Linked DNA regions of Homo sapiens: all the other regions are reported to be linked to region 1. Evidence: microRNA targets listed by miRTarBase, many of them from high-throughput screens and not tested one by one. Region 1 holds a microRNA gene; each other region holds the end of a gene's coding sequence.
Evidence for each region. Region 1 holds the annotated microRNA hsa-miR-6766-5p (CGGGUGGGAGCAGAUCUUAUUGAG, at 1,689-1,712, shown strand). A microRNA usually pairs through its seed, bases 2 to 8, with sites in the 3' UTR of a target mRNA and lowers its output. Matches are read on the target gene's strand: a 7mer-m8 pairs with bases 2 to 8, a 7mer-A1 pairs with bases 2 to 7 and ends in A, and an 8mer does both.

Region 2: miRTarBase lists E2F4 as a target of hsa-miR-6766-5p. Seed matches in the 3' UTR shown: 7mer-m8 at 2,413-2,419, 7mer-A1 at 2,207-2,213 and 7mer-m8 at 2,040-2,046.
Region 3: the mRNA of SPSB1 is a reported target of hsa-miR-6766-5p. Seed matches in the 3' UTR shown: 7mer-m8 at 7,518-7,524 and 7mer-m8 at 7,548-7,554.
Region 4: miRTarBase lists FBXO45 as a target of hsa-miR-6766-5p. Seed matches in the 3' UTR shown: 7mer-A1 at 1,904-1,910, 7mer-A1 at 1,598-1,604 and 7mer-A1 at 1,467-1,473.

Annotation. Positions count from the first base shown.
Region 1 is chr15:89,325,494-89,328,493 of GRCh38, reverse strand. It overlaps MIR6766 (microRNA 6766), which reads left to right and starts at 1,684; the gene lies at 1,684-1,755. POLG (DNA polymerase gamma, catalytic subunit) reads left to right here. Exons shown (of 23, transcript NM_002693.3): 6 at 1-38; 7 at 1,145-1,327; 8 at 1,431-1,582; 9 at 1,756-1,882; 10 at 2,808-3,000.
Region 2 is chr16:67,197,611-67,200,610 of GRCh38, reverse strand. E2F4 (E2F transcription factor 4) reads right to left here. Exons shown (of 10, transcript NM_001950.4): 8 at 2,965-3,000; 9 at 2,700-2,744; 10 at 1,693-2,603. The coding sequence ends at 2,488. ELMO3 (engulfment and cell motility 3) reads right to left here and starts at 1,480. Exons shown (of 20, transcript NM_024712.5): 1 at 1,207-1,480; 2 at 1,018-1,058; 3 at 855-927; 4 at 610-660; 5 at 250-419; 6 at 61-160. The coding sequence starts at 1,284. RefSeq lists a silencer at 2,085-2,144.
Region 3 is chr1:9,361,862-9,370,164 of GRCh38, forward strand. SPSB1 (splA/ryanodine receptor domain and SOCS box containing 1) reads left to right here. Exons shown (of 3, transcript NM_025106.4): 3 at 5,587-7,671. The coding sequence ends at 5,714. Among named protein-coding and RNA genes, the nearest start is that of LINC02606, 63 kb to the right of the region's middle.
Region 4 is chr3:196,581,472-196,589,774 of GRCh38, reverse strand. It overlaps FBXO45 (F-box protein 45), which reads right to left. Exons shown (of 3, transcript NM_001105573.2): 3 at 716-5,642. The coding sequence ends at 5,457. Among named protein-coding and RNA genes, the nearest start is that of FBXO45, 17 kb to the right of the region's middle.

The sequences.
Region 1 (3,000 bases):
GAGGTTTTCCAGCAGCAGCTACCGCTCTTCTTGGAGAGGTGAGGGGGAGCCCATGTGGGAATCTCTGGGGGTCAGTGTGTTCCTGGTACCCGGGCCCACTGTAATCAGGTGGCGCTGGTTCTATCTCAGGTTGGGGACCTTAGCTTTTCTAGGCTGAAAGAATGGAGCCCTTCTGTTCAGTGGTGTCCATCTGGGCCCTGGACTCTGGATTTGACAGAGGCCCTGAAGGGGAGGGCCATGGAGTTGTGCTTGTGTGTCATGTGCACGGTCCTGGTTTACTGTGCACCTTCTCTAACTAGATCCTTAGCCAAGGGCTTCACATACAGCGTGGTTATGTTTATTAATGAGTCTGTCTTATGAAGTGACCCTTGTATGCTGAAAATTCAGGTATATTTGTACCAAAGATATGGAAAGAAAAAAGAAGGGAGGAAAATTTGGGTGTAACTTTTGACTCCCTCAGAGCTTAACTACTAATAGCTTGCTGTTGGCTAGAAGCTTTACTGATAACATAATACATATTTTTTATGTTATACGTATTATATACTGTATTCTTAAAGTAAGCTAGATAAAAGAAAATGTATTAAGAAAATCATGAGGAGAAAATATGTTTACTATTCATTAGGTGGAAGTGGATCATCATAAAGATATCTATCCTTCACGTTGAGTAGGCTGAGGGCGGGGGTTGGGCTTGCTGTCTCGGGTGGCTAAGGCTGAAGAAAATAAATGTGTAAGTGAACTTGCACGATCCAGACATGTGTTGTTTAAATGTCAGCTGTATTTTACCACCCAAGTTGTGAGGTTCAGGCATGATGTTTTTCATGTATGGGATTATTAGCACAGTGCCTGGCACAGAGTCATTACTCCACGTGTGGCAGCCATTTTCACTTTTGCCATCTATATTTCCCACATTACCCCTGAGGATGGGATGATATTGTTCCCATTTTATAGATGAAAGAACTGAGGCTCCGAGAGATGGGGTTGCTTACCCAGGGATGAGTAACAGTAGAGCTGGGATTTAATGCCGTCTGACTTTTGAGCTGTGCCATGTCAGTGGCTGGGTTGAGGCTTGCTAAACCAGCTCAGGGATTGGGCCAGTCTTGCCTCCTGTGGTCATTTATGGCAGCTCCTGGTGTTTGCCTCCAAGGTGTCCCCACCCAGTGACTCTGGCCGGCATGCTGGAGATGGGTGTCTCCTACCTGCCTGTCAACCAGAACTGGGAGCGTTACCTGGCAGAGGCACAGGGCACTTATGAGGAGCTCCAGCGGGAGATGAAGAAGTCGTTGATGGATCTGGCCAATGATGCCTGCCAGCTGCTCTCAGGAGAGAGGTAGCCAGGCCTTGGGTGGGCAGGATCTAGGCAGGGGACTGGCAGGTGGGCGGCCTAGCCTTCGGCTTAGCCTTAGCCCTGCCCTAGTGGACTGGCTCTGTAGGTACAAAGAAGACCCCTGGCTCTGGGACCTGGAGTGGGACCTGCAAGAATTTAAGCAGAAGAAAGCTAAGAAGGTGAAGAAGGAACCAGCCACAGCCAGCAAGTTGCCCATCGAGGGGGCTGGGGCCCCTGGTGATCCCATGGATCAGGAAGGTGGGGAGCATGGGTGGGAGGTAGGGTAGGGTAGGGGTTGTCTCTGGGAAGGTCCTGTGATTGAGGGGGTCCTTCGAAAGGATTGCTCCAGCCTTCTGGAGATGAGCGGGTGGGAGCAGATCTTATTGAGAGTTCCTTCTCCTGCTCCTGATTGTCTTCCCCCACCCTCACAGACCTCGGCCCCTGCAGTGAGGAGGAGGAGTTTCAACAAGATGTCATGGCCCGCGCCTGCTTGCAGAAGCTGAAGGGGACCACAGAGCTCCTGCCCAAGCGGCCCCAGCACCTTCCTGGACACCCTGGGTGAGCCCTGCCCACCCCCAGCAGTGTATCTAGAGTCTACCCTTGCTCCATTCTCAGGACAGCCCTGGTCTGGGTTCTGGCACAGAGGCATCATGCACATGTATACTTATTGACCTGCTGCCATTCAGTCACACTGTCTTCCAGTCCTATTCTCATTTGCTCACTCTGGACCGGCTCACTGGACTCATTCAGCACAGTGTTGTGAGCACCTGCTGTGCAATGGCCCGTGGCAGCCACCGGGTGTACACACTGGAGCATAGCTCCTCCTTTCCAGTAGTTCTTTTTCCTAGGAGGAGCCAGGCACGTAGACCAGCCAGTGCAGCTAGTGTCCATAGGTAGAGTTCTGACTCTGCCTCGGGAAATAAATCAAGAAGGCTTCCTTGAGAAGGTGCCCCTTCCTTTGAGCCTCATAGGGTGGCAGAGATGAGAAAAAGGGCAGCCAGGGTGAGCAGCAGGGTGCCAGCTTTGCACCTGCAAGACCCTGAGAGCAAGTGTCCTGAGTGCCTTGCTAGTCTCACCCTGGGCTCAACTCTGGTGAACAGCCTGCAAGAGAGCACCCAGAAGGACTGGTGTTTCTCTAGAGGGGTGGGGAGGGCAGATCTGCTCCCTCCTCTGGTCAGTTACCCTGGATGAAATGGAGCTTGGGAAGGAGCCCTGCCCTGGGTCAGGGTATGCTTTTGTGTCCTGGCTTCTGACTAGTCCAGTGGGACTGACTTAGTGTCTTTGCTTTTGAAATATTCTTCTAGAGGATTCCATGGGGGTCCTGGCTAAAGCATCCCAGAGGAGGGGATGGCGGCTGTAGGCTGGGGTCACCAGAAAGCCCCAGGGCTTTGGAGGGTGGGTGGGGACATTGTGAGAGAGAGAACCTTCCCCCCAACAACTGCCCTTACCATCGTGACACTGCTGTCTTCCTGCTGGGACGTAGATGGTACCGGAAGCTCTGCCCCCGGCTAGACGACCCTGCATGGACCCCGGGCCCCAGCCTCCTCAGCCTGCAGATGCGGGTCACACCTAAACTCATGGCACTTACCTGGGATGGCTTCCCTCTGCACTACTCAGAGCGTCATGGCTGGGGCTACTTGGTGCCTGGGCGGCGGGACAACCTGGCCAAGCTGCCG
Region 2 (3,000 bases), not on the chromosome of region 1:
GTCTACCACTGCCCCACTGCTCCACTGCCCCCACCCGCTGCCCTAGGAAAGCCCACCCACCTTCCTCACAAAGGGGATGCTCAGAGTCTCCCAGGACACCACGCCGTGCTCCATGAGCTCTGAGAAGGCCCTCAGGCTGAGGGCCAGCACCTCTCCTAGGCTGGAGGGGGGACATCTGGGGCTGAGCAGGACCACCCCAGGACCAGAAAGACCCACCATCTCCCCCAGCCCACACATCCCTGTGCTCACTCGTCCCCATCTTCAATGATGGTGCCTAGTATCTGGAGCCCATTACGGCTGATGACCTCCCTGGCAAAGATCATGTCCGAGGCCAGCGGAACAAGGCGCCTCAGGGCTTCCCGGCGCCCTTCAGGACTGTTACTCTGCAGCCCACCCAAGAGCTGCTCAGCCTCAAGGTCCTGGCAGGAACGGAGCAGGAGCAGAGGTGAAGAGGCTGGGCATGGTAAGGGTGGGACCTGGAAGTGTGCGGCCCCGGGCGTCAACTAGGTGGCGCAAGGCAGGGCTGGGGCGGGGGCCTCCGGGGCGGGGGGCCTCTGGACCTGGAGCAAAGGGGCAGGGATGGGGAAGGCGGGACGGGAGGGGCATTACTGGGGCCGTGCTGAGGCACAGGATGCTGCCATTCTTGATCTCCGCGCGGTTCTGGAGAAGACAGCAGAAAAGGCAGCGAGGTCAGGGAGGGCTCCGAGGACTGATCAACTGGGGTGTCGGTGAGGGCGGCTGGGGGTGAATAACAGATCGCGCTCCGGTAGTGGGATGAAGAGCCAGAGTTATCGGGGCCAGGTGGGTTAGAGGGGTCGGAAGGCCGAGCTTGGGGCTGGGGAGAGGGGACTCACATTCTCGGTGATGTATCTCCGGTGCCCATCCGCAAACTGCAGGGCGTAACGCTCAGAGTGCGTCAGGCTCCACCTGAGGGGCACGAGGCTCAGCGAGGCCGGCAGGGGGCGCCGCCCCTCCTGCCCTCCCGCCCTCCGCAGGCCCTGGCCCGGCAGCACTCACGCGTCGCACACCTCCTTCAGCACAGCGGCCAGGGGCTTCGCCTGCAAGTGGAGTGGTCATTCTCGCGGCCTGGGCAGGGAGGGATGGGGAGGAGCCTGGGGGGAGGGGTGGGGCGGGCTGCCCCGAGGGCCAGGGGGCTACCGGGAGGTGGGGCAGTGGGGCAGATGGAGGCGGGACCAGCCGGGTGACCTGGTCCAGCTGGATGAGCTGCGGGATGGCGTCACGCATCTTGATGGCAATCTTCACCACGTTCCGCGGAGGCGCCATGGTCCAGCTGGGACGTGGGCGCCTGCACTTTCCGGAGACCGTGCACCTGCGGCCAAGGGTGCACCTGGCCTGGGGCCCCTGGGGACGAGGAGGTCCTCCCTTTCCGAGACCTGACCTCGGTGTCCCGCACTCGCGGCCCAGACTGCTGCTCCTGGCCATGCAACGCGGCCTTCCCAAGGGAGCCGAGGTTAGTTCCGGGTTGGAGTCTGGGGGTAGGAAGGTAGGACGGCTCCGCCTGCCCCGCCCCGCCGAGGCGGCCCCGCCCCACACCAAGGTGCGGCAGGTGGGGGCGGGGAGGGCAGGCTGCCGGAGGCCGCCCCACCCCTAGTTCCAGCAAGGTGACCCACCCAATCACACTGCCAGTCCAGCACAGTCCCAAGGAGGGTCCCCAAAGAACCACATCAGAGCTAGCCTTAGGCATGGTTTTTATTCACTTGAACACTGTACAAATATTACAATTTCCTTTTGCTGCAAAAAGTATAAAAATAATCTTTATATAGGAATCCATTCGTTACTGTAAATCTTTCTAAATCTCTGCAAATGGCTCTAAATGAGGGTAAATGAAAAAGCCGAAATGAAGAGAGGGTTATGGGGCAGCAGGAGGTGGGGCCAATCATCAGGGCTGGACCACCCAGACTCCTCCCCAGAGACCTCTGTTCCTTCTTGGTAGCCGCCCCCACCACCTGCAGGTTCTAGGGCTAAAGGCCCAGCAGAAGTGGGCACGTGAGAGGGCCAGGAGGAGCTGGAGGGTCAGGGGGTGGGGGATAGCGAAGGAAGCTAGAAGTGGTGCTGGCATGTGCCCAGTTCCACCCCACCCTTCCCTCCTAGGGGAAGGAGCTGGCAGAAGCAAGACACTGAGGCTGGCAGGAACAAGACACTGCCCCCTATGGGGGGTAATGGCAGCTCCTCGGTTCTGTGCCACTGGGTGGCAGCCGAGCCTGGGCTGGCGAAGGCCGCAGAAAGGGAGAAGCAAACACTTTGGCTCCACGGTGATGGGGGCTGAGTCCTGTTCCCCTGCTCTGCGAGCACAGAAGTGCCAGCACAGGAGCGGGAGCTGTGGCCAGAACTGTGCGGTGAGGGGAGGCCGGAGAAGCCAGGCGTCTGTGGCTCTCAAGCTCTGTAGGGGTCGGGTGGGAGAGGTCCCCAGGCAACCCCCAGGTCAGACAGTCTGGGTCCCAGCCACACAGGGCATGTCCCTGTCAGTCAGAGGTTGAGAACAGGCACATCAAAGAGGTCACAGACACCTTCACTCTCGTCCAGGTTGTAGATATAATCGTGGTCTCCCGGGGGTGGAGAAAGACGAAGCAGAGGGGCAAACACTGCAGAGAGCACTAGTCTCAGGCCCTGGGCCAGGGCTCCCCTAGCAGCAGCCCAACCCCTGCCCACACCCACTCCCACCTTCCAGGGCCACCCACCTTCTGAGGACATCAACTCCTCCAGCAGCTCCGAGCTCATGCACTCTGGGAATGGAGGGAGCTCAGTTACTAACATTCCAGCTCCCACCTCTCCACCCACCAAAGCCCAGGAAAGGGAACCCCACCTGCCCATCAGGAACTTCACCCTTTGCCCCAGTTACCATAAGCGCCACAACAAGGTCCTCAAAAGGGCAAGAAAACAGCCATAGGACCCAATGAGCTGTGTCCCTTACCCCTAGCCTCAGGGAGGAATGCAGCAGCCTACCTCGTGTGGGATCAAAGATTTCTGACAGCTCTTTGG
Region 3 (8,303 bases), not on the chromosome of region 1:
TGTTTGCAAGCAGCAGGCTGGCAGGCTGTCCAGGGGGAGCCCCTGACCTTGTGGGTCCTCTGGCTCTACCCCCACTGCTTTAAAGACATCTCCCACTGAGGAGGCATCTTCCATGCAGTTCAGCATTTTCGAATTTTCTTTAACGGCTCCCAGATGGGTTTGGTGTGGTTTGTCGTGGTTGAAGGTTCAGGGAAGGTCAGCTCGTCTCCTCAAGATCAGAGCCTCCTCCCGGGTGCCTCCTTCCTGCACTCCACTCCAGCTGGACTCTGCCGGGAGCTACTCATCGGGAGACTGATACACCGCCACCAGGGCCACCCACCCTCCCTCCCTCCCTTCCTTCCTTCCTTCCATGTCGGGGAGGGGTTGTCCCAGACCCTATTCCCCACACCCTCCAGAAGTTCTGGTCATATGAGGACCGCAGGCTCTCAGAGTTTGGGGGGGATAGGGGACCAAGGGTGTCTGATCACCTAGGTGGATCTCAGGCGTCCTTCCCCAGTTGACAAGGACAAAGGCTCCACGTTGTGTTTGGCTGTGCTCTTTCGTAAGAACTGCGTAGTGTAGAGGAAAACACACACACATCCTATGATGGCCACCCGACCCGTGACATTCTAGAATCCATGTCCTGGAGCGTGGTCCCCACAAGCTGCTTGCAGGGCCAGCCACAGGAGCCATGACAGCTGTCAGCGAGGACATTGCGGAAGCCGGGGCATTCTCTGATGCGGAACATTTTTCCTTGACCTCACCGTTCTGCAGCTCGTTCACTCAGCCCGTGAACTGGGCACAGCACCACACTCTTGAGGCTTGAGTTGGGTTGAAATCTCTCGGGGAACAGTGAGACAGTTGTGGGTTGGGGCTCTGGGGCTGTGCATGTTCACGTGGGCCACCAGGTAGCCGTTTCTCACAGAAATGTGGAAGCTGGTGCACTGTCTCTTCCAGTTCCTCAGGCTTCTGCTCCCAGAAATAGCGCCTGATTGACTTCCTGATTTCTTTGCTGCTCATTCAGCATTGCACTCTCATTCACAGAAATTATTTAAATGAATGAGCGCCTAAGCTTCCTGGGGATGGGCATAGCAGCCAGAGGCCCCAGGCCACAGTGCAGGTGCCCACCCCCTCGGTAGATTTCAGCAGGCACCTGGGTTTGTGGCTGGAGCTGGGTGCAAAGCTGGCAGCCCCCAGTCAAGAGTGTGGAGGTTGGGGAGAACTCCCTGGTACTGGTAGTGACCAGCTGAAATGGGGGCTGGGCATTTTTTCACGGCACGAAGCCCACGTCTGTTTCTGTGGCCATGCATTCTTGGTCTCTGCCCAGCCTTTGGAAAGCAGTTAGACCGGGCCCTATGCGCCATCAGTTTCCTCCTGCAAGATCAAGGAGGCGTGACCTGTTTATGTACTTGAGGACCCAGAGAAGAGACCCATTCACAGGATGCCTGGGTGACTCTGGTCCTATTTTCAGCTCATAACACATCACTGCAGCCATTCACTGCCACTTCTCTAGCCCGTCTTGGTGGATCCCATGACCCATCCCTAACTGGTTTATTCAGTGAGATCCAGAGATGGCCAGGCTGTGGCAAGTCCTCTACCCCACACAGCTGCGTTCACAGGGGATGGATTGTGGCAGCTGGAGGGCCTCATCCCTTTGGAGTCCATGGCTCTCAGACCTTGGACCTGTAACTCTCACCTCCCCAAGCCCATTTCCCTATCTGTAGGTTGGGGTCACAGTCCCCATCAGGCACACGACTGGTGCCCCACAGGCCATGGCTGGGGCTGGGGCTGCGGTGTCAGCCACTCAAAATAAGGCACTGGATGGAGCTGGGGGCTCATGTGGGCCTCTGCAGTTTTAGAAAATTTTTTTTTTTTTGGAGATGGAGTCTCATTCTGTCACCCAGGCTGTAGTGCAGTGGCGCAATCTCAGCTCACTGCAAACCTCTGCCTCCCAGGTTCAAGCAATCCTCCTGCCTCAAACTCCCAAGTAGCTGGGACTACAGGCATGCACGACCACACCCAGCTAATTTTTGTATTTTTAATAGAGATGAGGTTTTGCCACACTGGCCAGGCTGGTCTCAAACTCCTGACCTCAGGTGATCACCCACCTCGGCCTCCCAAAGTGCTGGGATTACAGGCATAAGCCACCGCGTCCAGCCTAGAAACATTTCTTCATGGGTTGATTGGAAACCCGTTACACCAAGAGGGTAGTGACTGAACTCCCTCTCAGCCCTCACTGCTGCAGCCTGGCAGGGCTCTTGGGCCACATTCAGTGGCTCTTGGAGCTTTCTCAGGTGCTTTCCAGCCACGAGGGAGAGCCCCTCCACTTTCCGGCGGGGGCTGAGCCACATTCTCCCGGGAGGGAGCTCAGGGCAGCCCAGACCCCTTGGCCCTGATGCAGGCCAGATGCAGGCGCGCTCCCAAGCAGAGAAGAGAACACACCTGCAAATTCCCCACTCCTCTGTGCAGAAGACCTACTCCCGACAGCCAGGCCAGACCACAGGCTGCGATAAGCACTTCTGGCCTTCAGGATCTTGGCTGCATGGGACTTTGGGGAGAATCTGGTCTGGATTCCGTGTCTTACAGATGGGGAAACAAGTCCGGGCAGACGGAGGGATGTGCTCCAGGTCAGGCTGCGGGGCAGGGTCTGGAGTCACCAGGCTGGGTGTTTTACCCGAGGGAAACCCAACCCTGTGAGGAGCCGGGTGGGTGGAACCCAGTCCCACCCCATCACGAGGGGTCTGTGGGATCCTTGACCTTAAAGAACCCAAGGTTATTTCATTCCTCCATTCGTCTCCAATCAGAGCTCCTCTTAATCATCCTAAGCTGGCCACGAAAGGCCCCCTTTCAAAATTCTCCATTAAAAATACAGAACATTTCAGTTCCTTGTCAGGAGCTGTGGCTGTGACCGTCCATGGGGGATGAAGAGCAGTGGTCCCTCTTCTTTTGTTTATTTATTTTTTCAGTTTTGGGGTTTTTTTGTTGTTGTTTTGTTGTTGTTGTTGTCGTTGTTGTTGTTGGTTTTTCTGAGACAGAGTCTTGCTCCGTCACCCCAGGCTGGAGTGCGATGGTGTGATCTCGGGTCACTGCAACCTCCACCTCCCAGGTTCAAGTGATTCTCCTGCCTTAGCCTCCCGAGTAGCCGGGACTACAGGCCCATGCCACCATGCCTGGCTCATTTTTGTATACTAATTTTAGTAGAGATGAGGGTTCACCATGTTGGCCAGGCTGGTCTTGAACTCCTGCCCTCAGGTAATGCGCCGGCCTCGGCCTCCCGAAGTGCTGGGATTACAGGCGTGAGCCACCACACCTGGCCTGTTTTCATTTTTGAGACAAGGTCTCTGTTACGCAGGCTGGAATACAGTGGCACAATCACAGCTTACTGCAGCCTTGACCTCCTGGGCCCAACCGATCCTCTCGCCTCAGTCTCCCAAGTCCTGGCTGATTTTTATTTTTTGTAGCGATGAGGTCTCCCTATGTTGCTCAGGCTGGTCTCAAACTCCTGGGCTCAAGCAGTCTTCTGTCCTTGGCCTCCCAAAGTGCTGGGATTACAGGTATGAGCCACTGTGCCTGACCTGGTCCCTCTTCTTTTAAAGCTTGGGGTTTAGTAAATGCATTATCAAGCCTAAGGTCCATTCTTCTATTTTGTAACAGCTTTACTGAGCTATAATTCACATACCTTACAATTCACCCATTAAAGTATCCAATTCAGTGGCCTCTTGCGTGGTGAGATGTAGGAAACAATTTTAGAACATTTTCATCACCCCAAAAAGAAACCCTATACCCATAAGCAGCCTCTCTCCATTCTGCCATGCCCCACCCGTAGTGTTTGGTCTTCAGTAATTGATTTTCGTATATTTGAGACACATTGGTGAATATTAAAGAACTTTAATCCACTTTTTACTGGTAGGATGGAGTTTTGCGGGTTCCTTTTAGTTTTGGGGGCTATTTTGCTCACAAAGGAGTCTCAAAGTCAAGGGGAGACCGTGGATGAAGCCTCAGATCCATTAGTTTCAGGGCTTTCCATCTGCAGAACAGCGTGGGCGGCCCCACGAAGGTCCAGGTGTGCTCACTCCTACCTGGTTTCAGGAAAGAGAGCAAAGAGGGGTCTGCTCTGGCGAAGCGGGCGAGCAGGGCCGCGCAGCCTTCCAACGCTCAGAAGCCTTGGAAGGCATGAGTTTCAGACTCCTGAGATCTGAAGCTGACGGCTCATCTGAGATGCAGCTGAATGAACTCAGCCTCCTTTGTAGGAAGGCAAGGCTGGGCGCTCTGGGAACACAGGATGGAGGTGCCTGGGAGGCTGCAGCTGGAAGCGCTCTGTAACCCTGGGGCCTGAGGCAGCTCTGCCCAAGTTCCCCTGGCTGTGAGAGAGCCCCATGTGCCTGGGGCAGTTGCGGGGAGAAGGCCCAGGCAGCTCTGGGGGATCAGCTGAAACTGGGCTGGCATTTCCAGTTTCCTGGGGCCTGAGCTTGGCCTGGGCCCTCAGCCTCACTGTCAGACAGAAGCACAGACACCCGGGGTTTCTCTGTCTCCATGTGGCACAGAAATGACACCTTCAGGCCGTGGGGCCAGCCAGGCCTGTCACGTATGATTCAGGACAGGGTTTGCCATGTCTTCCTTTGCAGCATGGTTAGTGGCTAAGGGCATGGACGCTGGGCCCAGGCTGCCTGGATTCAGATCCCAGCCCTGAACCTTGGCACACTGGGTGTCCCCTCTGTGCCTGTGTGTCCTCAGTTCTTTTTTTTTTTTTTTTGGACCGAGTCTTGCTCTGTCGCCCAGCTAGAGTGCAGTGGCGTGATCTCAGCCCACTGCAACCTCCATCTCCCAGGTTCAAGCGATTCTCCTGCCTCAGACTCCTGAGTAGCTGGGATTACAGGCACACACCACCACGCCCAACTAATTTTTGTATTTTTAGTAGAGACGGGGTTTCACCATGTTGGCCAGGCTGGTCTTGAACTCCTGGCCTCAAATGATCCACCCACCTTGGCCTCCCAAAATGCTGGGATTACCAGCGTGAACCACCATGCCCAGCTAGTCTTCAGCTTTAAAACAGAGGTGAGAATGGTATCTGAGAGCAGCTGGTAACAGAAAATGATTCCCTTCCTGAAGCTAGTGCTGGGGGTGCGTGCCAGGAAGAGCTGGCTCCCATGTGTTCCGACCGACAGGCCCCAATGGCAGCTGCTTGCCTGGACAGGCAGAGTCACCAGTGGGGAAGAGCAGGGATCGCCTGGGTTCGAATCCTAGCTGCATCTCCTGCCAGCAGGGCGACCCCTGGCAAGTCATTTAGACTCTGTCCCTCAGTTTCCTCATCTGTAAAATGGGGATGAAGGTAATGGTGTCTCTGTGACTATTAAGTCATTCATAAGAAACCACTGTGAGGATTAAATGAGTGTTAGCAGAGGGCTCGCCCAGGTGCCCAGCCCAGGGTGGGCTCCTGGTGGCAGCTATTCACATGCTAAATTTAAAATGAAAAAGCATTGCATTTTTCATTGTTTCTTTACTGATTTGAGTGAATACTAATCAGTGATAATATTGCTGCTGTGGTTAGCGCTGTTTGCTGAACACCCACCCAAGCTGCGCTGACCTGCAGTTTCTCTGTCTCCCCAGCCGAGCCGCTGCCGCTCATGGATTTGTGCCGTCGCTCGGTGCGCCTGGCCCTGGGGAGGGAGCGCCTGGGGGAGATCCACACGCTGCCGCTGCCGGCTTCCCTCAAGGCCTACCTCCTCTACCAGTGACGTTCGCCATCATACCGCCAGCGCGACAGCCACCTGGTGCCAACTCACTGAGCCGCCTGCCGCTGGGGCCGCCGCACCCTGCACCTTGGACCGGCATCCGTAGCCATGGACAGAGGTCCCTGGTCTTCCCTCATCCTCCGTGGCTGCCTCCATGGGACAAGGACCGATTCCAACACAGGCTCCTCTTTCCCCCTTCCCGACATCAGCAGAAGGCAGCATCCCTGCATGCCGTCCGTATACAACCCCTCTTTGAAAAAAGACACAGAGAATAAACTCCTACGAAAGCCCTACATTGAGCTCCAATCTGCTCGGGGTGGGACGGGTGCTTCCCACACCTCTGGGAGAAGGCTGCAGCCACCTGGGGGTCCCAGGGTGGTGGGGGTGGCAGGTGGTACCACAGCTCTGAGAGCAGATACCAGGGGTACTAAGAGGTGCTTAGACAAGGGCTGGTGCCCGGCCCAGGGTGCCCAGCGGGGCCATGCCATGGCAGATAAAGCTCAGGACGTCAAAAACTCACCATGGACCCCAAGGCAGAAACCAAGAACTGTCTGCAGGCAAATAAGCACCCAGCACCCATCCTGGCTGCCGGTGCCCCGTACCCTGTATTTATTCTTTTAACAATAACAAAAGCCATTTATTTATTCCATCTAGAAAGGAAACCCTGTTTCAGTCCCCTCTCTCTGGCTGTTCTGTTACTTTCCTTCCACCTGTGCCCTCCCTGGGATATGTATGCCTCGCCCGCCCTCCCTGGGCACATGTGCACACGTGCCCAGGCACAAGTATGTCTCTGGGTCCCTTGCCCTGCAGTTTCCAGGGGGCTCTGCTCCAAGTTCCCTAGCGGGCCCCTCAGGGAGAAATAGCCTCACGTGCAATCTGGGTGTCTTCGGGGGCCCGTCTGGAAGGGCTGCAGCAATTCCCCTGTGTCTCCAGGTAACCAGCTAACTCTTGGGCTCAGGCACCCTTGCACAGGGTTGCATTTCTTTAGTCTTCTGTGGGTCTTTTGATGTGGGTTTGATTTTGCTTTTGCTTTTCTAGCTGAGATTTCCCAAGTGCATCCTCAGAAGCTCTGGGTGTGCCAGAGGACCCCCAGAACTAAGAAGGGAGGGCGAGTGGGTCTCCATTCCCCGAGAAGCCGGGGGCAGGGTGGGATGGGGAAGACCAGGAGCAGAGTCGAGCCTCACAGAAGCCAGCGCGGGTCTCTGCTCAGCACCCCAGCCGGGGCTCTGGACCCAGGGTAACAGCCCCAGTTCATCCCAACCCCTCTCAGAGCCTCAAGAGGGGTAGCTCGGCTGCCGGAAGAGAGGGGTGCCCTATCCCTGGCAACCCCTCCACGTAGCGTACCCCAGCACCTGCCACCGCCTTTGCCATTTCTTTGAGCTTGAAGTTAACTCTCTTAGAGTCTAACTTTGGTTCATTTCTGCACAGGTACAATAGATGACTTTATTTGTTTAAAATGTTTAATATATATACATACATATATATATATTTGTCTGTAAGAATTATGTTTTAAACAGCTGCTGTAGAGTACCTTTTTTTAAGTAAATCTTACAGTGGAGTATATTTTTTAAAGCACAAAATTGGTGCCAAGACTGGGTGAGAAATGTACATTACCCCCTTATTATTTTGACGGTTTTTTTTTTCGGGGCAGGGGACCTTACCTGTAAGACTTTTAAAGATTTTCCTCCCTCCTGTTTCAGGTGGGTCACATTCTGATGAATGTTTCCCTTGTACAGATCCCAGCTTATGGCCTTGACCCAGCCGTCCTCACAGATGCCGGGTGACCCTCTAGCTCTCTCTGCATCTCCCACCCCCCGACACCCTGGGACCCTCGACCCCACCCTTCTTTCCTACCAGCCCAGAGCCTTGTGGCTTGTACAGTTTTGAAACTCCCGTTCTATTTTATGATGGTTGATAATAGTCAGTAACCTAATAAAGGAACGTTTGTTAAAATATCAAACCATTTTTGAATTCCTCGTTTGTGCCTCGGGGGAGGGGAAAGAGACATAGCTGACCCCTCCTGGGTCCAGCCAGCTCCACGGCCCACAGTTTTCAGCAGATGATGGGCTGACTCCCTACCACCCCTTGGCAGAGGGTGGGATGCCAGGCAAAGCCCCAGACAGAGAAGGAGAAGGAGAGTCCTGGAGGGAGGACCCCAGAACAGCCTCATCCCCATTTCAGAAGTTCCTCAGCCTGGCAGCCCAAGCTGCAGAAACTTGCCAAGTCTAACAGACAGTGATTCTGTGCCTTCGTGAGCGCATCAGGTTGGTTTGTGGGGTTGTAGAACTTGAGTTGACCGTGGGCTTTTTAGGAGCAGAGTGTGAGCCATTGTGGGCGTCCTCAGAGTCCAGGCTCTAGGGGAAGGAGCAGGTCCTTCATTCGTCTTTGTGTCCCCTGGGGCTGAGTGCACGGTGATGTTTGCTGAACTGTTGCAGAGTGAACTTGTTCTGCTAGCCATGTGGGCAGAGCCCCCGACAGAAAGGACAGGAAACTCTGGCTTATTTAGGGGATCAATGGGTGATAAAATGACAGTCAAGAAATTTACTAAGATGTGATCACGTGTCACGGCTAGTTTCCAAAGAATTAGCAAGA
Region 4 (8,303 bases), not on the chromosome of region 1:
TCGAGGGAGGATCCAAAAAAGAAATCAGGACAACAGACTGGTAAAGCTGTCTCTGGCGTCTCTTTCCACTAAACAAAGCGGCAAATACAGAACATTTACACCTATTTTTCTTTTATAAAATTTAAATGCTTTGGGCTGGGCACGGTGGCTCATGCCTGTAATCCCAGCACTTTGGGAGGCCGAGGCACACGGATCACCTGAGGCAGGGGTTGCAATGAGCCGAGAGCACATCAACTGCTCTCCAGCCTGGGTGACAGAGCAAGACTTTGTCTCAAAAAAAAAAAAAAAAAAAAAAAAAAAAAAAAAAAAAAAAAAAAAATTAAAATGCTTTGAACTTTAACATATCAGCCAACTTGTTTAGCAACATCATCAACTGATTCTCTTTTAAGCTTTTGGATCACAGGAGCCGTGTATTCAGCCAGTTCAGGAATAGCATGCCTGTCTCTCATAATTCTTGGCAAACAACTGCATTATCAAACAAATGTCAGCAGGAGGGTGGGGTGGGGGGCGGTAGAGGCAATTGGGAAATAAGACCCTAGTGAATTACTGTTCTCTGTCCACTTTCCATTCTAAACATGGGGAATGTGGATTCTATTATTAAAGCCATGGAATTTATAGGTAAATTCCATCACCACCTCTGGCTATTAAGGCACCCCAATTTTTCTTTCTAACCAATGTGTAAAAAATGTCTTTAAATGTAAGCAATCACAGGTGGTTAATGTTTAACTTTTTATTAAGAAACTAAGGCAAAACAACAGAATTCCAAAAAATAAAGATACAGAATTCTAATTTAAATTCTAAACAAATATAAAAATCAGAGTTTACCAGTATTTTTGAGTAGAGGGGAGTGGCTAAATGCATTCACAGTAATTATTTCTTCCTTACCAGCCTCAAGTTTGCAACCCTTTCCTTCCTGCTTCACTGGGACTAGAACAGAATTTCTCATTCATCTTTTGCTACTATAATTTTTGCTTCTATAGTCTAAAACTTCAGAGGAGCTTTTGTCTTTCTCCGCAGTTCTTTCTCTGTTCCTTCAGCAAATATGTGAGCACCTGCCTATTGGGCTTACATGTTGTGGCACAAAGATGAGTCCGTTAGAGATCCTGTCCCAGTTTAGGGGCGATATGACACCAATAAATAATCAATAAATAATTTTAAACAAGGTATAAATAAATACAGCATGAGTCAACTATAGATATATAAAACTAGGGAAATTTCAAGGAGAGATTACATTCAGCTAGAGAAACTGAGGAATGTTTTTGAGGACAGCATTTGGGCTGGGTGTGGGCTGTTCCTAATAAAGGCTTCCAAGTGGTCCTGATTATCTACCACAGTCCCAATTGTGGAACTGTGGTGGTCTCAATTTCTGGAAAGTAATCTTTTCAATGCTAACCTTTAAAACTCCTTAAATTTCTGGCCTGGCACGGTGGCTCGCGCCTGTAACCCCAGCACTTTGGGAGGCGAGGTGGGTGGTGTTGGCCAGGAGTTCAAGACCAGCCTGGCCAACATGGCATAAACCCCCTCTACTAAAAATACAAAGATTAGGCCCGGGAACAGTGGCTCATGCCTGTAATCCCAGCACTTTGGGAGGCTGAGGTGGGTGGATCACAAGGTCAGGAGTTCGAGACCAGCCTGGCCAACATGGTGAAACCCCGTCTCTATTAAAAATACAAAAATTAGCCAGGCATGGTGGCAGGTGCCTGTAATCCCAGCTACTCGGGAGACTGAGGCAGGAGAATCACTTGAACCCGGGAGGCAAAGGTTGCAGTGAACTGAGATCACACCACCGCACTCCAGCCTGGGCAACAGAGCAAGACTCCGTCTAAAAGAAAAAAGAAAAAAATTAGCCAGGTGTGGTGGCACATGCTACTCGGGAGGCTGAGGCACGAGAATTGCTTGAACCTGGGTGGCAAAGGTTGCAGTGAGTCAAGATCGTGCACTCCAGCCTGCGTGACTCTGTCTCCAAAAAAGAAACACACACACCACTCCCTAAGTTTCTATCTCTTCAAATTACTCACTTCTTCAAAATAACAAAAAAAAATTAATATTAATATGACAATCTACATAGTTTGGGGATTTAAAAGTTAAAGCTGGGTATAGTGGCATACACCTGTAATCCCAGCTACTTGGGAGGCTGAGGCAGGAAGACTGCTTGAGCCCAGGAGTTCAAGACCTGCCTAGGCAGTAGAGTGAAACCCTGTCTCCAAAAACAAACAAAAGTTCATTATACAGTAGTAGTTTCTTTATGGTTTAGGGCTCTGCTATTTTTGAAACTCTTTCTCCAGTCAAATAATTCTAAAAGGCAGAAAATGCCTAATCACTGAACAATGATTTTAAATATTAACTGGGTAAATCTTACTTTCTTTTGGTGTCTTATTGAATCCATATCTACACTTTATGTGAATGAGGGAGATGAAATAAATGGCTTAACATTTAAGTCAAATAATGAGAAAATAATGGCAACTATGAAATGACATTAACCACAAATTCCTTGTATGAAAAGATTTAATGAATTATGAGCCATTGATCATTACAAACTTTAAGCCTTAATATTTCTTCTTTCCTATGTAAAACCAGGTAATTAAAACAGCCTGTCTCAGTATGACAGAAGACCATAGTAGGGATAATAGTAACGTCTGCTTCCACATCTGCATGCTTCGTTAACCAACCAAAGAAAGTGCTCCAGGTTTCCCAAGTCAACAAAGTATACTCAGTTACACTTTCCCTGATCATACTATGAATTGAAACAGAACACTCCTTTGACTTTTAATAGCACTTTTCATCCACGGCACAAGCACTTTCCCATTATTTTCTCCTTTACCCTCAATATCCTTGTGAGGTAGTGAAGGGAGGGAGCAAGGATTTTTTTTTTTCTATTTTGCAGATGAGAAAACTCAAGGTGAATTTTACAACAGTGGTTCTCAACCTTGGCAGCATATTGAAATGACCAGAAAGTTTTTAAAAATCCTTATGACCAGCTCATATTCCAGACCAACATCAGAATCTTGGCATACGGAACCCAAGCATCGATGTGTCTTCCAACATTCCAAAGTGACTACAAAGTGTATACAGCCAACACTGAGAACCACTGGTTTGAATGATTTACACTCAATCTTCAGGCGCAACTGTCTTCTACCGAAATGCTCTCCTCAGCACCAATGACAAAGATATTCCATCTCCTTGAGCACTGCAGCAGTTTAAGATTTTGTAGAGCTACTACTGGGTTTTAGTGACAAATTTACGTAAATGAAGGCCCTCATGACCCAGATGCTCATGCTGCTCACTTCAATTGCATATGATTTGCGAATGGGACATTCGGGAATTTAAATCTTTGAGATAAGAATGGCTTGTTGTTAAATATTGAGGCAATTATTTCATTCTAGGTCCAATACGCAATAACCATGTGTTTCGGTTTTCCACTCAGCACCTTCAAAACTGTTGCAAATGAATGTTTACTAACAAGACAAAAGAGACAATTATAAACCAAACTCTCAACAAAATTCGGAATGGCCACATCACAACCTGAAAAAGAAACAAGTACTTAAAGGACTTGATCACTTCCTAACAAGTCCATCTTCAACCTGAACCACTTCTCTTGTTTAATCAAATTTTAAACTTTGCCGAACTGAGTTGTTCTACACCAAGAAAAATCAATTTCTATACCACCTACATTCTCTAATACATTTAACATATAATTTCACTCAATACAAGGAGGTTTCTTCTTAACCTGGACATCGAAAAGAATCTTTAACAGATTTCATCTTTTCAAGCAATGTATCAAATACACAATAAATACTTGTAAACTTTTCAGGTGGCAACAATAAATCTTTGTTCTATGGCTGAAATCCCTTGCTTCACAGGAGTATTGACAATCTTAACTCCCAAGGAGCAATCCAAGAATCCCGGCCAGCTGCTGGGTGTCCCTAATCAGATTTAAAACAAAACATACATACAGCAAGAACTCAGAAGTACAAAGATTTCGCTCGCTTTTGTCAATTCTTATGTATCTAAAACCATACAATTTATACTTTCATACAGAAAGATGTCTGTTTCTTTTCTAACAAAAGAAAAACTCTCAGCTCATGTGGGTTGGATTATTAATTCAAAAGCATTTTAGTGATGAGAAACAAGATTTGTAAGTCAAAATAGGAGTTAATGTTAAACTCTTCTACAACGAAACCTTCAAATATTGCCAACCTGAAGTTTTCAGCACAAGGTGTTGTATTTCAAGTCCCATGGGGGCAATTATCTATAATGAGATTAAGAATATTCTTAACCTGTTTCAGCTGGGTAAGTAAACGTTTTCTTTATAGCCCCAATAACGAGTTTGAGGCTTAGATTAGTTGCATGATGTAAACAATATGAAATTAAAATTTTTTTGATAATATCTACAGCATTTATAAGGTTACAAAATAAAAGGACCATTAATCAATTCTTTTTTTCCTAGGCTCTATGACTAATAGCTTTCATATTTGAGGCCTACAAGAGCAAATGGCAATGTTCTGTGTTATGAGACACTTTCTTAGAAGGCCAAAAATAAAACTGGATACCAAAAGATACACATTACTATTATGTTGAGATCATCCTTACTGATATATGTATAATTAGAAATAGATTTGCCTTCCTTCAATCTTTAGCCAGGAGACTGAGAGATCTTTACTATGATTTTGAGAGTAAAAACAAAAACAAACCAGACTCTAACAGCTATGGGAACTGTAAGCCAAAAATAATACAAAATGAGTCAATACAACACATCTCCTCTTAAAATCCTCTTCTTTGTAGTTAACCCAGTTGTCCCCAAATGTTATTCCAATTTTGTAACCATGTAGTGGTTTTTAAGAAATTAGAACTAGAACAAAACAACCTGTTTGTCCTTTCTTTTTTACAGTTTTTTTTTTTTACACACATATTATATACAACTTTTAAAATAGCTGCACAATTTTATATCTCACTTTTAGAGAAGTGCAGTCCAGGCAGACCATGCTTCTCAATATATTAAAAATATTAAATAAAACCCAACCAGTTTCATACTTTTCTAATAGTCAAGCTGGCTGGAAAAAAAAGGACTGGAGAAAGAACAGGCAGTTGTAAAATGGGATCAGTCTTCACAAACACACTACTTAAAAATCTTGCTATTTCCTTATCCCTTTGACAGCATCTCTACAATCTCACCTTTAAAGCTGGAAATAACACATTGCTAACTTAGAGACAACATCGGGTGCAACATGCATATGTCAACTGCCCACTCAACCAACTGCAACCCTGAGGATTTTTCTGGCCCAGTAGAAAGAGGAAACACGAAGATAATCTCTGCTGTAGAGCTGCTTCTCCAGTTTACGACTTCATGTGTTTTCAGGATGTTTCTTGGACATGCATGTGTGACAGTCACTTCATGGTTCTACTTCCCATAAGCAGATCTCTCCTCCATTCTGTCTGTCATCACAAGAAAGCCACTGTCATCCGTCCAAAGGTTTTCCAAGGTAAACCAAAGTCACTTCTGTGTTGCCATATACAGCAGAAACTGCTGGGTATAAGCAGACCTTTGGAAGTCCTCTAAAAGCAACCCCCAGGAACTCATATCCACGTTCAAAAGCTAAAGTCTTATCTTCCATGTCCAAGATGACTCGAATTCTTTCTCCTATCTGCAAACAGATATCAAAAGGTTAGAAGAAAATCTGCCAAGGGTGTAGCTAGAAGAAACAAGACACAAATCAAGAAGTTGAAAATATTAAGAATATTATCCTGAAAGCTATCTAGAAAAATCAGAAGGGAAGCTTTCTAGTCAGGAAGAAACATCTATAAAAAAAGGACATACATCTGGCCGGGCATAGTGGCTCATGCCTATAATCCCAGCACTTTGGGAGGCTGAGGCGGGCGGATTGCTTGAGCCCAGGAGTTCAAGACCAGCCTGGGCAACATGGTGAAAACCCATCTCTATTAAAAATACAAAAATTAGCTGGGTGTGGTGGCGCAAAGCTGGTATCGCACCACTGCCCACTGCACTCCAGCCTAGGTAACACATCACAAATGCTTACTTTGATAGTTTTGTTTTTAAGACTCACATGGAATCTACACTTAATTACTTACAATTTAAATGTTCCACCTGAACACTACCTAGATTGATTTTATTTACTCTTTGTTTAAAGGTTTTTCTTAAGGTTAACACTAAAATCTATAACTTGGCATATTTTACCAAAAAGAGCAATCTAAATCAGCTTCTCAAATTACTATACTATACATACAACGGAACTTTTTTTTTTTTTTTTTTTGAGACGGAGTCTTGCTCTGTCGCCCAGGCTGGAGTGCAGTGGTGCAATCTCAGCTCACTGCAAGCTCCGCCTCCCGGGTTCATGCCATTCTCCTGCCTCAGCCTCCCCAGTAGCTGGGACTACAGGTGCCCGCCACCACGCCCGGCTAATTTTTTGTATTTTTAGTAGAGACGGGTTTCACCGTGTTAGCCAGGATGGTCTCCATCTCCTGACCTCGTGATCCACCTGCCTCAGCCTCCCAAAGTGCTGGGATTACAGGCATGAGCCATCGCGCCCGGCCGTACAATGGAATATTATTCAGCCATAAACAGAAATGAAATTTTGATATATGCTACAACATAGATAGACCCTGAAAATATTATGCTAAGTGAAATGAGCCAGACACAAAAGGCTAAATGGTATGATTCCACCTATATAAAGTATCTAGAATACTCAAATATATATAGTTGTAGAGCAGAGTTTACCAGGGGTGGGGAGTGAAGGAAATAGGGAATGAACATAATAGAGATTATGTTGGGGTGAGGAAAAAGTTTTGGGTATAGAGAGAGGTGTGTGAATGTATTTAATGCCACTGAATTGTATACTTACAAATGGTTAAAATAATAAATATGTATGTTTCACCACAATTTTAAAAATCACCTTAGTAAGACACACAGCTTTTAAAGTTTACAAAGCAGTTCCACATGTAATGTGGAATCATGAATAATCCAATCTGGCTACAAATTCTAATGTAGAATATAGAATAGGCTTATTAAACAATTTGTGGTTCACAACTCTGAAACACCTGTTTGTTATAAAAAACAGCAGCACTGATTATTAAACGAAACTGGAAGCAGAATATATCCAGTTTTTTCCCATTTGGAAAAGTAAGCAAAAAAAAAAAAAGGATGTTTCATCTTTTTAGTTTGCCTTTATAAAAAGATGTTGCATCTACAAAATTGGAAACAGAAAGTCCTAATGTTTGCAATCAAAATTTAATTCTACCTGATTATAACCCCTACTATTGTCATTTACTTTCCTTCACTGTATTTCCTGTTAACAGTAACTGCCAACATCTGCTTTTTTCCTCCCTTTGCCCACCTCACAGATTAACCCACACCTCATTTTATGGATCTAAGAACCTCCAAATCATCATCACCACCACTCCTACCAACAAAATATTAACAAAGTAGAAATGAAAAGCTAATTTTGTTGGGTATTTGTGTTGTGTCGTATTTGTATTATCCCATTTAATCCTCACACTAATCCTAGGAACTATCCCTATTTTACAGAAGTTGAAACTAAGTAACGATTACTCCTGGTGAAATCTGCAAATCTGCTTCACCTTTGAGCACACAGCACGCACAAAGCCCAGGGTGGAGAAAGCGAAGTCTTACCATCTTTAGGTGCTGGGGTAAAACGTGGGGAGATGGCAGAGCAACTGGAAACTTAGAGGAGGAACTCCAGAAGCAACAGAACCACAGAAAGGATGAACCCCAAAATCTGAGAATTAACTTCCCAAATCCCTGAGTGACCACTATATTACAAAGGCACAGGGTAAACCTCCAGGACTAAAAAAGCAGCAAAGCTGAAAAAACTGAGCAGACATTAGCTGCCACACATCACATGAGACAGAGTTTATAGTTTGAGTATAGGCAAGTTAACTGCCTACTAAAACAAGAAAACCTATACTTTTCAGAGAATAAAGCAGTTTCTAGAAACAAAACATTCAGGAGTTACTACTACATATTATCTACACATCTAGGTTTCAGTTAAAAAAATTACTAGATATGAAAAGAAACAGGAAAGCGTGATTCATATTTAGGGGAAAAAAGCAATCAACAGAAGCTGAATCCAAGTGGTCCTAAGTGTTGGATTTGGTAAAGACTTCAAAGCAGCTGTTATGAATATGTCCAAAGATTTTTTTACAAATATAGTATAAGTAAATAAATAAGGAATCTCGAAAAGGAAATTTACTCTAAAAAAGAACCAGGCCCAGTGTGGTGGCTCACGCCTGTAATCCCAGTACTTTCACTTTGGGAGGCCGAGGCGGGC